Homo sapiens: one gene and its partners. The protein of the gene in region 3 interacts with the protein of the main gene of each other region in a pairwise test. Each region holds a gene or a part of one and is shown on either strand. Other genes may lie near its edges.

Region 1 (3,648 bases), on a different chromosome or scaffold from region 3:
CCTCATGCAAGGCATTCAGATGATAATGGACAGAATCATCTAGAAGGACAAATGAACTTCAATGCAGATTCTAGCCAACATAAAGGTATGGTTTACTTTATTAAGCAGTAAACATAAGCAGTATTTTAGTCTAAATTTTGTCATATTCCTGTCTGTATCTGTTAATTAAAATGGGCTATATATTCCAGATATTAAAAATAATTCTTGGTTTGCCTCAAGAGAAGGGAATTGCTAAAACTCAGATTTATTTAGGGAATAAGATATTAATTTTGAATTCGTTTTTAAGTAGAAATAGTTCAGAACCCATGATTTGGGGAAGGGCATAACTATTCAGATTTGATTTGTTTCTGAAAATGTTTTTCTAGGTTCAGTTTTGTTATATGTGTGTCTTTGGTTTTTGTTACTTGTTTTGGTCATAGCTTTTGCTTAAGTCTTGTTTTCCTAGAGAAACTTGAGGTGTATGTAAGTTTCGATTTATATTTTTATAATTAGTTAATAGAACTAATCTTTTTTTTCCTCAAGAGGCACAAAGAACAAGGAAGTTAAAAACCAAGGATGCGTTCTAAAGACTTCATTTTCTCCTAGCCTCCTACCTCTAACCAGATTTTCTCAGTTGAGTTATTTATGTGTCCCTTAAGTGTTGGTTCTCTCCAAGTTTCTGTCCTTTAGCTGTTTGTCTGTGTGACATCATTAACCCGCATAATTTTAATTTCCTTCTATTTCTTACTGTCTTTAGCCCAGTTCCAGACATTGTGAGGTGACATTAACACAATGCAAAATACGGTTTGACAGAAAATAATATAAGTAGCTTGAAAACAATTGGAATTCTGGGATGCAGAGGGTCCACTATTCAGTTTTTTCTCTTCTCTTCTCAGTAGTAAATTATTTCTTCACCACCTCTCAAGCAGAGGTTGAATGGTGAGATTTCAAAGCCTGGTTCCATTTTATCAACTAGCAAACATAAACATACTATTACAAAGTATGTCGTGTTTTGTGATTGTTTATGTAACAGTAATTCAGCTCTGAGCAAGTGCTCTGTGTTCCTACAGAACAGTTTGGTCACTGTGTATTTGCTCTGTAGCATAGCCACATGTCTTTAGGTGATCAATTGGAGGCAGAGTTCCCTACTAATAGTAAGCCGTACGAGGCCTCACTGCAGGCATGTGTATTAGATACATACTTGTCCAGCTCAGTGGCCTACAAAATGTGGGGTATGCTAAAAGTTTGTCTACTCCCTTCAGACTCAGCATGTGTAAATTGAGTCTCCTTTTCCTTCCTACTCCTAGAAGTTGCTCTTCCTCCTCTATTCTTTCTTTTATATGGCTCATTACCATCTGTCTGTGCCAGAAATTAAGAAATCATGGTAGGTGCTTGCCTTCACATGCTAGCCAATTCGATTTGTCAGTACATTCTAACAGTGCTGCTACTTTACCATTTTTCATCTCTTTTCCTCTCAGTCCTCAGTGCATTTCCGATTCAGGCCTTCAGCTATACCCATGTACCTGCACTCAACCAAACTTCACCATTCCTTTTGGTGAACTTATAACCTATTTTCTGTATTATGTCTTTATTTTTTAATCTTCCTCTTTGTTCTACCTAGGTCCCTATCTACTGCTCTGTAGGATTTATTAGCCACTATTTTCCTTCAGCACATTGAATCCTTTGTTCATACCTCTATAATAACATCTCTTAGTATTTAGCAATTATTGGTTTGTGTGTCAGGCTCAGGCTCCCTGAATGGACTGAATTCCTCTGCAGCAGGAAATGTGTCTTACTCATTTTTTTCATCTCCTATGCCAGCCCATGCCCAGTACAAAGCAATTAGTGAATGAAAAATTATTTATCAAGTTCAGCGGTGGACAAACCTGTCTTACCTGAATGAAACAGATTGGGGATTCCTGCATTCACTGTTCTATCCATTCAAGGTTTGGTATATTTGTATAGCCAAGAGATTGGGCTCCTCAAGGATATGAGATGTCTATGCTTTCTGACTGAAAGTAGGGTGATTTTGTCTGCTGTTGTCCTTTTGGATTGTGAATCTTGATACTCAGAGGGACATGAGAATTTTTATTTTTTATTTTTTTTGAGATGGAGTCTCGCTCTGTCACCCAGGCTGGACTGCAGTGGTGGGATCTCGGCTCACTGCAACCTCCGCCTCCCGGGTTCAAGCAATTCTCCTGCCTTAGCCTCCCGAGTAGCTGGGATTACAGGCGCCCACCACTACGCTTGGCTAATTTTTTGTATCTTTTTTAGTAGAGACAGGGTTTCACCATGTTGGCCAGGCTGGTCTCGAACTCCTGACCTCGTGATCTACCCGCCTCAGCCTCCCAAAGTGCTGGGATTACAGGCCTGAGCCACTGTGCCCAGCTGGGACATGAGAATATTTTTATGTTCCACCCAGCTTTTCCCATTATTCCCTCTCAGTTGGTTAACTAGTATATTATATGCCTCCATTGTTAATTTCTCATAGGACTAAGCTTCTGTAACTTGCTGTTTGACCTTAATTTTAAGCATATGCTTCGTCAGGATACTGCCCAGAACATTGCTACTGAAAGTCAGTTCATAGACTCATTCTGGTCCTATAACTAAAGAATGTCTGCTTATTTGGGAGTAAGCAGAAACTTTTATTGTAATTGGAGTAATTTTGTCTGAAGCTAAAAATAAAAATTTAGGACTTGTTTTATATTTTAGTTTTATTTTTCTTATAATTCATTTTTATCCTATTTACACAGTGTAGACCTCTTTTAGAAATAAAAATTGGCCTTTCACCACAGATAGCTTGGGAAGTACTCATCTAGAATCTCATCATTGAGCTCTTCCTCTGTACCGGTGCTACTCAAAATGCGGTCCTGGCCTGACACTTTGTCAGCTGTTTGTCTGCACAAGATAATGAGGTTACACTAGGATGTAAATCAGTTTTACGCTCACTGCTTACTTAAATGGACAGTTTTAAGTTTCAGTTTTAAGCTCACTGCTTAGTTAAGTGGACATTTTGATTGGTTGGTTCTGATAGTAGGCCTTTTTCAAAGTAATGTGTTGCTTTCTGTTCTGGTATAAGCTCCTTATTTCTTTGCAAACCTGTAGTTTAAAGAGCACTGCTCTAGACCATCTTGGAATTCCCATGTCTACCATTGTTCTCTTCTGTTTTTGATTGGTGGATTTACATTTTGGAATGAGGTATGTGACTATCAGAAAGTAATCTCAACTCCTGTGCTTTGACCTTTTACCACCTCAGGGTACTTGTAGAAATTCTTAATAGTGGATTATTGTGAACTTCAAAAATGAACTGCCACTTCAGCAGCATGTCTTTCCTGCTCTTCAGAAACTCGTTCAGAGCAGTGAGAAATTTCTGTCAGTAATCTATTAAAAACTGGCTGCTTTCTTTTATGAAGTGCCAAGCAGAGACTATTTAAGGCAGCATTTAGCATGCCTATGAAGCACCAGGAGAACTTATTAAAATGCTGATTCTGAGTCAGTAGGTCTGGGCCTAAGATTATGCATTTCTAACAGGCTCCCAGGTGATGCTGCTGCTTTTAATCAGTAAACTACAGTTTGAGACGAATTTAGATTATAATGTCAACTCTTACTAGCTCCAGTGATGTCCTAGATAACACTGACATGAAACCAATAAATCAGAGTGTCAGTTCA
Region 2 (4,440 bases), on a different chromosome or scaffold from region 3:
GCTAAGGAGAGCCAGCACTCCCATATTCATTAATTCATATCATCCTCACATCAATCATGGGAGTCTCACCCTCCCCATGCCATGGATAAGAAACAGAAACAGAGGAGTAATGCTTTGCTCAGTGCATTACTGACAGGCTCACTTAGTCCTCACCCTGTCCAGCCTCCCTGACCCCATGTCCCGAGGGTGACCTCCCTGACTGGTCAGTGTGGCTTTCCCTAGCCTGGCCTGTGACCAGCAGCATGAGGAAGTGGGGATTGGAGTGCTGCAACAAGTGATTTGGATTTTAGCAGAGTTCCTGTTTGCCTGGCCAGGGCATGCCTGGGGAGGACTGGGTGGCCCAGCCCACTCAGTCCCCAGACTTTACCTCCCACTGTTGAGCGTTTCCTCGATGGGTCTCCTGGGCTGCAGTCCTTCTCCAACAGCTCTCGTTTTCCTGCCTGGCTGTCATCTCCGGGCCCTGACACTGGCAGGTGACCGCAGGTGGCCCTCCGCTCCCTGCTGCAGCCTGCTGTGGTCCTTGCCCATTCATGGCATGTCCAGGCCAGAACCTCACAGGGCTCTGGAGCCACAGGGTCTCCCTGGTTCTCAGGGCAGGCCTTGCTGGGCCATCCCCAGCCTGCGCAGGCCTTCACCAGTGCCCCTGGTGATAAGGGTTCCAGGGGCCCAACACCTGGGCTGCTTCTCCTAACACTCAGCAGCAGGAGATAAATAAGAATAGAAGGAAGGAAGAAAAGGAGGGAAGGGGAGTCTACCAACTCCAGGCCTCCCCACTCCTCTTCCTAAGTCTTCAGCCCCCACCCAGGTCTCTACATCTCCTCAGAACCTCCCTCTGTCCCTCAGTTGTCAAGGCTCAACATGGGGTCAGGGCCAGAGTGCAGTGTGGGTCAACTTCAGCATGAGGTCAGGGTCCTGGCTTAGACTGAAGTCAGAGTCAGTGTTCAGGCTGGGGCAGAGATTGAGGGCAGCCAGGGTCAGAAAATGGTCCTCCAGCCCTTCCAGGGACAGCCCACTTCTGTCCTGTGGGGCTGAAGATGCTGGCTTCTTCTGGAACCCTCCATAACACTGCCGGCTGGCAGCTCTGACCATACCATCCCCTGCTCTCCAGCTCTGGTGTCCAGGGTGACCAGAGCCGCCTCTGGGCAGGAAGCCAAGCCAGAAAGCCCAGGACATCCCTGAGCGCCTGTCACCATGGCAACCTGCCCGCTCTGCCCCCCCCCCAAACTCAAATCCAGTATATTTTTCAAATCCAGCATGACAGAATGGGAAGGGCCTCCTAGATCAGCAGATTCCAGTCCCACCCCCTTGTCCCAGATGGAGAAACTGAGGCCCATTTGCAGAAGGGAGGGGGACCTGTTGATTAGGGACCTGGCCCCAGCCTGTCCTCCCTCCCGCCCACCCCCACCTCAGTGTCCCTGGGGATGCGGAAGGTGGGGGCAGGGAGGGGGAGCCTGCGGCCCGATCTCCCGGGAAGGAGGGGGCGGGCCCTCCACCGCAGCGATGGCGGGGGCGGGCGGCGCGGGAACCTGACACCGAGGATGAATAAATGATGCTCGCTGACTACCCGTGGCCAAAGCCCGTGGCCACCGAGCGCCGGCTGGCAGGGGCAGTGACCGGCGGCCGGCCCGTTCGTCCCTGGGCTCCGCAAGCGGCGCGGTGGCACGAAGATGGCGGGGTGGCCGGGCGCGGGTCCCCTCTGCGTGCTGGGCGGCGCCGCACTCGGGGTGTGCCTCGCGGGGGTTGCCGGGCAGCTGGTGGAGGTGAGGCCGCGGCACGGAGGGACTGGGGAGGCTGTCACCCTCCAGGCAGGGGGCTGGGGGAGAGGGGACGCCTTTTTGATCCGGAGCTTGTTTGATCCCTTACTCTTGCCCTGAGAGATCCAGTCTCCCGGGCGATGCAGCCCTGCCCCAAGCCCTGCCAGGCTGTGAGAGAGACTCAGCCCCACTCTTAGGGTCCCTGGTCTGATGGAAGGGCACAGTACCCGATTTCTGGAACATTAGTCTGACGGGGGAGACTCACCTTGACCTTAGGGATTCCCAGCCTGACTTGGGGACACAGCCCTGCCCAGACTGATGGGGGATACTGGGCCCCCATCCTCCAGCCTTTGGTCTCACTGGCAGGGAGGTGCACAGCCCTGGGTTTCCTGGACCTCTAGTCTGATGGAACAGACCCTGAATTTAGGGTCTTCTGGAGGCAACAGCCTCTATCTCCAGAGATGTTCCAGGGACCCCTGTCTAATGGAGGGGGAGACATAGCCTTAAGATGGAGACGAGGGCATTCCAAGTTGGAGGGTGGGGGCAGCAGGATGAGGAGACCCTTTACAGAGAAGCTATGTGGAGCACTAGGTCCAGAGGGGCAGGCAGGGCAGGACCTAGGGACTGGGAAGTCTGACTTGGTCCTGGTGATAACCGGGAGCTTTAGAAGGTTTCTGCTCAGGGACAAGTCATGATGAGTTCTGGTTTGGAAGGAGGGTAAATTGGGAGCAGGCACACAGTGGGAGAGGTGGGAGGAGCTGCTGAGATAGCACAGAAGCTGGGGGAGAGCCCTGGTGGAGAGCCTGGCTGGGGCCAGGAAGGGTGGGGCCATCTGTAGCCTCCCTAACCCCCTTGTACCCCACTCCTGCGGAGCCTGAAAGGGGAGCCAACGAGGGAGCTGGCAGACCAGACCTAGAGTTCTGAATTGTGAGGCCAGAGGGAGAAGGCCCAGGAGCCAGGGCCAGGGAGGAGCAGGGGATGGAGGCTGTGCAGGCAGGGGCGGACCAGAGGGAGCAGGAAAACAGAAATGCAAGAGGCAGTGAGAGGTGCCCAGGGAAGTCCTGAGGGGTGGGGGCTTGGGGACAGTGTGGGATAGAGAGGACAGAGCCATGGGGAAGTTGTTATGGGGGGACACAGCCCTGAACTGGAGGGTTTGATGGGGACATAGGGACAGAGCCCTGGACCCAGATGTAGCCTGTCCCTGCTGTTGCCCAGAGGGCATGACCACAAGGCTGGGCTAGAGTCAGGTGTCAGCTCCAGTGTCCCTGTAAGGGGAGCTATGCTGGCTTGAGCCCTGTGAGGCGTACTTGGGCCCCTCACAGGCTGCCCTGAGGCCTGGGTACAGAAACTGAGCTGGCCTAGGTGCAGACAGAAAGCTGGGGGTGGGGGTTAAGTCAGTTCTCAGCCAAGGACTCTTCTCCCTCACCCCCAGGAACTCATCTTTTCCCAGTTCTAGGGAAATTGCATTTGGAGGCCATCTGCCTGACATCTGCCTACAGTCTGAGCAAGGCCTTAGCTCTTCCCTCACGGAAGCACCAAAGACATGGGCAGGGCTGGGGGCCATGTCACCACCCACCTTAGCCCTGTGTGGGTCACCATCACCCTCCATCAGCCCGTGAGGCTCTGAAGGAGGTGGGGACCTCCATGCTCCAGAAATCAGACCCCAGCAGGGCCCAACATGAGGAGAAGACCAGCTGTCATCTGCTGCCGTCCACCCAAGACCCCTATCAGTAAGAGTAGGCCCAGCTCCACCCACATCAGGGCTGGGGCAAGAATGTGTAGGAAGTGAGCTGCCTTGGCTCAGAACCTGAGAACTTTGCCATGGCCCTCAGAGTCTTCCAGTCATACAACCAGCCGGGCCAACACATTGAGCCTTAGAATTAGGGCAGCTGCCACCATCAGGGCCCTAACCCTAATGGCACAGACATGTCCCTGACCACACCCACATGCATGCCAACCACACATGTGCCCAACCTCACACATGTTCCCCAACTTTATGTACATGTCTGACCCCACACATATATCCAGGGGAAAGTACTGAGGAATGGTGTCTTCTTGTCAATAGCTCACCCTGGCAGGGAGAAAAGAGCCTGAGAATCAGGTACCAATCCCAGCCCACAGATCCTCTGGGTTACCTGGGACAGGTTGCTGATCCTCTCTTGAGTTCTGCAACCCACGCTGAAGGGTGGCATTCACTAGATGAAGAAGCGCCTGGCTCATGACAGATGCCTAATCCATGTTTACGGACCTGGGGGAAGAAGGGCTGGATGGTCGAACTACAGGTTGCCTTTCTTCTCAGAGAACCAGAAGGGACTTCTCGTGTCTGTCCTTATTTAGTAATCAGTGCACAACATCTCGCTCATATGCCCCAGGGTTCTCTCTCCCTCAGAGGACAGACCCCTCTCCCTGTCCCTCAGCCACACTAAGTGACAGACATGGGGTCATATCCATCTCTGGTCAGGGACAGATCTTACTCAAATTCTACAGTGTGGGTCCATGTCCCTTCAGACCTAGGCAGGACTGTGTCCCCTAGACACCCAGGGTAGAGCTGTGTCCTCTAGACACCCAGGGCAGGACCGTGTCCCCTAGACACCCAGGGTGGACCATGTCCCTAGACACCCAGGGTGAAGCATATCCCCTAGACACCCAGGGCGGACCATGTCCCTAGACACCCAGGGTGGACCAT
Region 3 (3,648 bases):
CTCCCACCAGGGTGGCATTGTAGCCATAGAGCCCAGATGCTATTAATGACCTGTGGGGCAAGAGACACAGCACGGACATTTCCTGGGTGAGCTTTGGTTGCACTTGCACATAAATAACACTAGTAACTTCCAGATCATATTCATATTAAAAAATGAGATTATATTTGGAAATGTATTTCAAAGTCTACGTAAGCATCGTACAAAAACTAATAAAGACATGAAGTGAAATATACATAGATAAAAATATAAATGTGCATTTAGATCAGTGGTCCCCAGCCTTTTTGGCCCCAGGGACAGGTTTCATGGAAGACAATTTTCCATGGATGGGGAATGGGGGATGATTTCGGGATGAAACTGTTCCACCTCAGATTATCAGGCATTAGATTCTCATAAGGAGCAAGCAACCTAGATCCCTCACATGCCCAGTTCATAATGGGGTTCGCACTCTTATGAGAAGCTAATGCTTCTGCTGATCTGACAGGAGGCGGAGCTCAGGTGGAAATGCTCACTCGCCCACCGCTCACCTCCTGCTGTGCGGCCCAGTTCCCAACAGGCCACAGACAGGTACCTGTCTCCAGTGCAGGGGTTGGGGACCCCTGATAGAGAATGACTCCCTCTACAGGTGTCACGGCTAAAGACAGGTCTACAGTGGCTGAGAGGAAAGGGGAGTTTAGTAAGGCAATCTGCTCTGTTTTCTTTTAGCCTTTCCTTTGGAAAGTTATTCTTTTAAATCAAGAGCCTCTGACTTGAAGAGCGCTTTTAGCATATGAAACTGTTGCTTAAGTTTGATTTCTTGGTGAGAGATATAAGATTCCTGAAATGTAAATTCACTTTCACAGTGTCTTTGATCTTATCAACATTAATCTTCCAGGTTAGTATACATTTTTGTGTCCTGATGCTTCTATTTTGTTGTCTCCAAACGCACATTTCAAAGTTATTGCAAAGAAGAACAATTGCTTTTCTCTTACTTGGAGAAGTATCCCATTTAATTATGTGCATGTTGAGCACCCAGTTCTTTCTGAGGTTACTTTTTGCTTAGTATTCAATCTCATTTCTTCCCCGTCTTCTTCTCCTTCTTTAGATTGAGGGGGTACATGTGCAGGTTTGTTACATAGATGTATTGCATGATGCTGACTGAGGTTTGGGCTTCTATTGAACTCGTCACCCAAATAGTGAACAAAGTACCTGATAGGTAGGTTTTCAACACTTGTTTCCCTTCCTCTCCTCTTTTGGAGTCCCAGTTGTCTACTATTTCCATGTCCGTGTTTACCCAGTGTTTAGCTCCTAATTGTAAGTGAAAACGTGTGGTATTTGATTTTCTGTTACTACATTAATTCACTTAGGATATTGGTCTCCAGATACATCCATGCTGCTGCAAAGGACTTGATTTCAATCCTTTTTATGGCTATGTAGTAGTTCGTGTTGTATATGCACCACATATTCTTTATATAATCCACCATTGATGGGCACCTAGATTGATTGACCTGACAAGGCAGGATTCCCACAGCTCTGAGAGTTGGCAACGTCTGGCACCGTGAAAGGCACAGGATCCACTTCCCAAGGGCCTGTCACTCAAGGATGATGTCTGTAGGGGGATGGGGGAGTAAAGATGGTGAAGTGAGTAGGTGAGGCCTAATGCTGGGCTCGAGCAGGAGGTGCTATAGCCAGTGAGCCACACTGCAGGGGCTGGTAAGGGATAGTGTGACAGCTGCTTCTTGGCTTGTTTCTAACTGGGCCAGGAGGCACCATTGCAACAGGCAAGATGATGTCACGTACATTAATCCAGATGAACATTAAATGTGGGGTTCCCTATTCAAAAGTTCTTTGTTTCCCTTAAATAATCCTTGAGGGCAAATGGGAGGTGATACAATTTGCAAAGGTACAACTCAGAGACTGGGACTACACATGACAGTAGAGAGCCATGCAGACTTGTCCTCTCAACAACTGACTTGGAGATGTTAATGCTTGAGTTTGATCAGTGGAAAATTAATGGCAACATCTACAAATTGTGGAATGCCATAGTTAAAGCCACAGGAAGACATATATTTACTTAAAACAGAGAATTTCCATTTTAATGCAGTCTTTTCAGACCAAGGAAAGTAAAACATTTGAAACTAACACATATAAATGACTTGTCTTCTAAATAATATCTGACAAAAAATGAGTTGATCATGTTTCATCAGAGCAAAATCATAAAGGAATATTCAGTATGGCACAATTATAGACTCCATCCCCAAACTGAGGAGACCTTTTCTTGGCATGCATTGGAATAGAGTTTAACCTAAGCTATAAAATCCCCTTCTACAGGGAGCAAATCAGACTCCTTGAAATTGATAGAAAAGTGGAGCATTTGCTAACTCTCTCCCCACGGACCTCTTTAGGCAATTTGCAGCCAGTGTTACAAGAGCTTAGTTGTGTAATGACCACACTGGGGATTGGGATTATGCGTTGATCTCAGACACCTGGAATACTGGTTCCCTCCCTAAAGGAACTGGCTAGTGGGGAGCTATCTACTGCCCTGGTGAGAGTCAGCTCATCACTTCTTCAATGACAGATCAATTTATAAAGTGTGTGCTATTTTTAATCTAATCAATATATCAGAAGACTCACTAAGGCTTCTTAAGTCAGAATCCACTCAATTGGAATTCATGGTTATTCTTTTCTCCAGGAGCTGAGCTGACCTTTGCACTGTCTATGAAGAATGAGTTTCCTAAACTCATCATAGCAACAAGATATAACGGGGGTTATTAAGCCACTAAAACTTTTTCTGAATTCATATGCACTTTTTCCCAAATAGAATGCTGACGACAAATAATTTTATCAATCATTAAAGAAGATCCCTTCAGAACCTCTCCAGGGAAATACTTGTAGCTTAGTTCTGGTTAGCACGTAATGCCACAAGAATCTGGCATCATTTAGACCAGCCATTTATTCAGATATCAAGAGCAAGAGACTGTAACTGATTCCCTGACCTCTGACTAAAAACAAATATAAACAGTTCTGTGGACTAAATGTTGTTTATCCTGGGAAGGATGTGGTTTTATCACTGTTGCCCACAGTAACTGGTCAGCCCCTGTGTCTCAGAAGGGAGCTGAGAAGGCTTGAAAGGGTACACCTACCTGTCCTGGCTGAGCAAGAGGGCCATCAGAGTGGAGACCACTGTTCCCAGCCAGCCAGTGAGAGCCCACCAGGGGTTCTGAACAAGAAGTCCTACCAGAATCAGGATTCCACTGACGGGGTTGTTGACGAACACCACTTGGGATATGCCCCGGAGAATCCAGTCAATGAACTGGAGCACCACGGGTTTGTCTGGAAGGGATGAGGTAAAGCAGAGCTAAGGAAGCTGCCAAGTGATACTCTTCAACCACAGGCCCACCCTGAGCAAAATCAGCAAAACCTCCTGGAAGTGAAACATTTTTGATATTTCTTTAATATTTCTCTCTCAACCCATTGTTGCATTAGTGGCACCCAGATCCCTGAAAGCCTCTATCTACTGTATGCTCAACCCACACTGCCCCTCCTAGAATCTAAGCTCCTGAAAGCATCTAATGCACTTATTTTCATGCTTATAGGTACAAATTCTGAAGCCAAAGGAATAAATTTAAGTTTTAAGTACTGAAACTACAGGATGAAGCCAGGTGCCTTCTA

Evidence for each region.
Region 1: the proteins of SLC14A1 (region 3) and C1GALT1 interact in a two-hybrid assay, tested with the Homo sapiens proteins (one large-scale study listed by BioGRID).
Region 2: the proteins of SLC14A1 (region 3) and TMIE interact in a two-hybrid assay, tested with the Homo sapiens proteins (one large-scale study listed by BioGRID).

The regions. Positions count from the first base shown.
Region 1 is NC_000007.14:7,234,455-7,238,102, forward strand, and holds part of C1GALT1 (glycoprotein-N-acetylgalactosamine 3-beta-galactosyltransferase 1), read left to right. Parts: coding exon 1-85; intron 86-107; exon of another isoform or gene 108-1,925; intron 1,926-1,931; exon of another isoform or gene 1,932-3,177; intron 3,178-3,648. UniProt on the Homo sapiens protein: Glycosyltransferase that generates the core 1 O-glycan Gal-beta1-3GalNAc-alpha1-Ser/Thr (T antigen), which is a precursor for many extended O-glycans in glycoproteins.
Region 2 is NC_000003.12:46,699,821-46,704,260, forward strand, and holds the start of TMIE (transmembrane inner ear expressed protein isoform 1 precursor), read left to right. Parts: upstream 1-1,571; 5' UTR 1,572-1,667; coding exon 1,668-1,760; intron 1,761-4,440. UniProt on the Homo sapiens protein: Auxiliary subunit of the mechanotransducer (MET) non-specific cation channel complex located at the tips of stereocilia of cochlear hair cells and that mediates sensory transduction in the auditory system.
Region 3 is NC_000018.10:45,730,676-45,734,323, reverse strand, and holds part of SLC14A1 (urea transporter 1), read right to left. Parts: intron 3,310-3,648; coding exon 3,120-3,309; intron 51-3,119; coding exon 1-50. UniProt on the Homo sapiens protein: Mediates the transport of urea driven by a concentration gradient across the cell membrane of erythrocytes.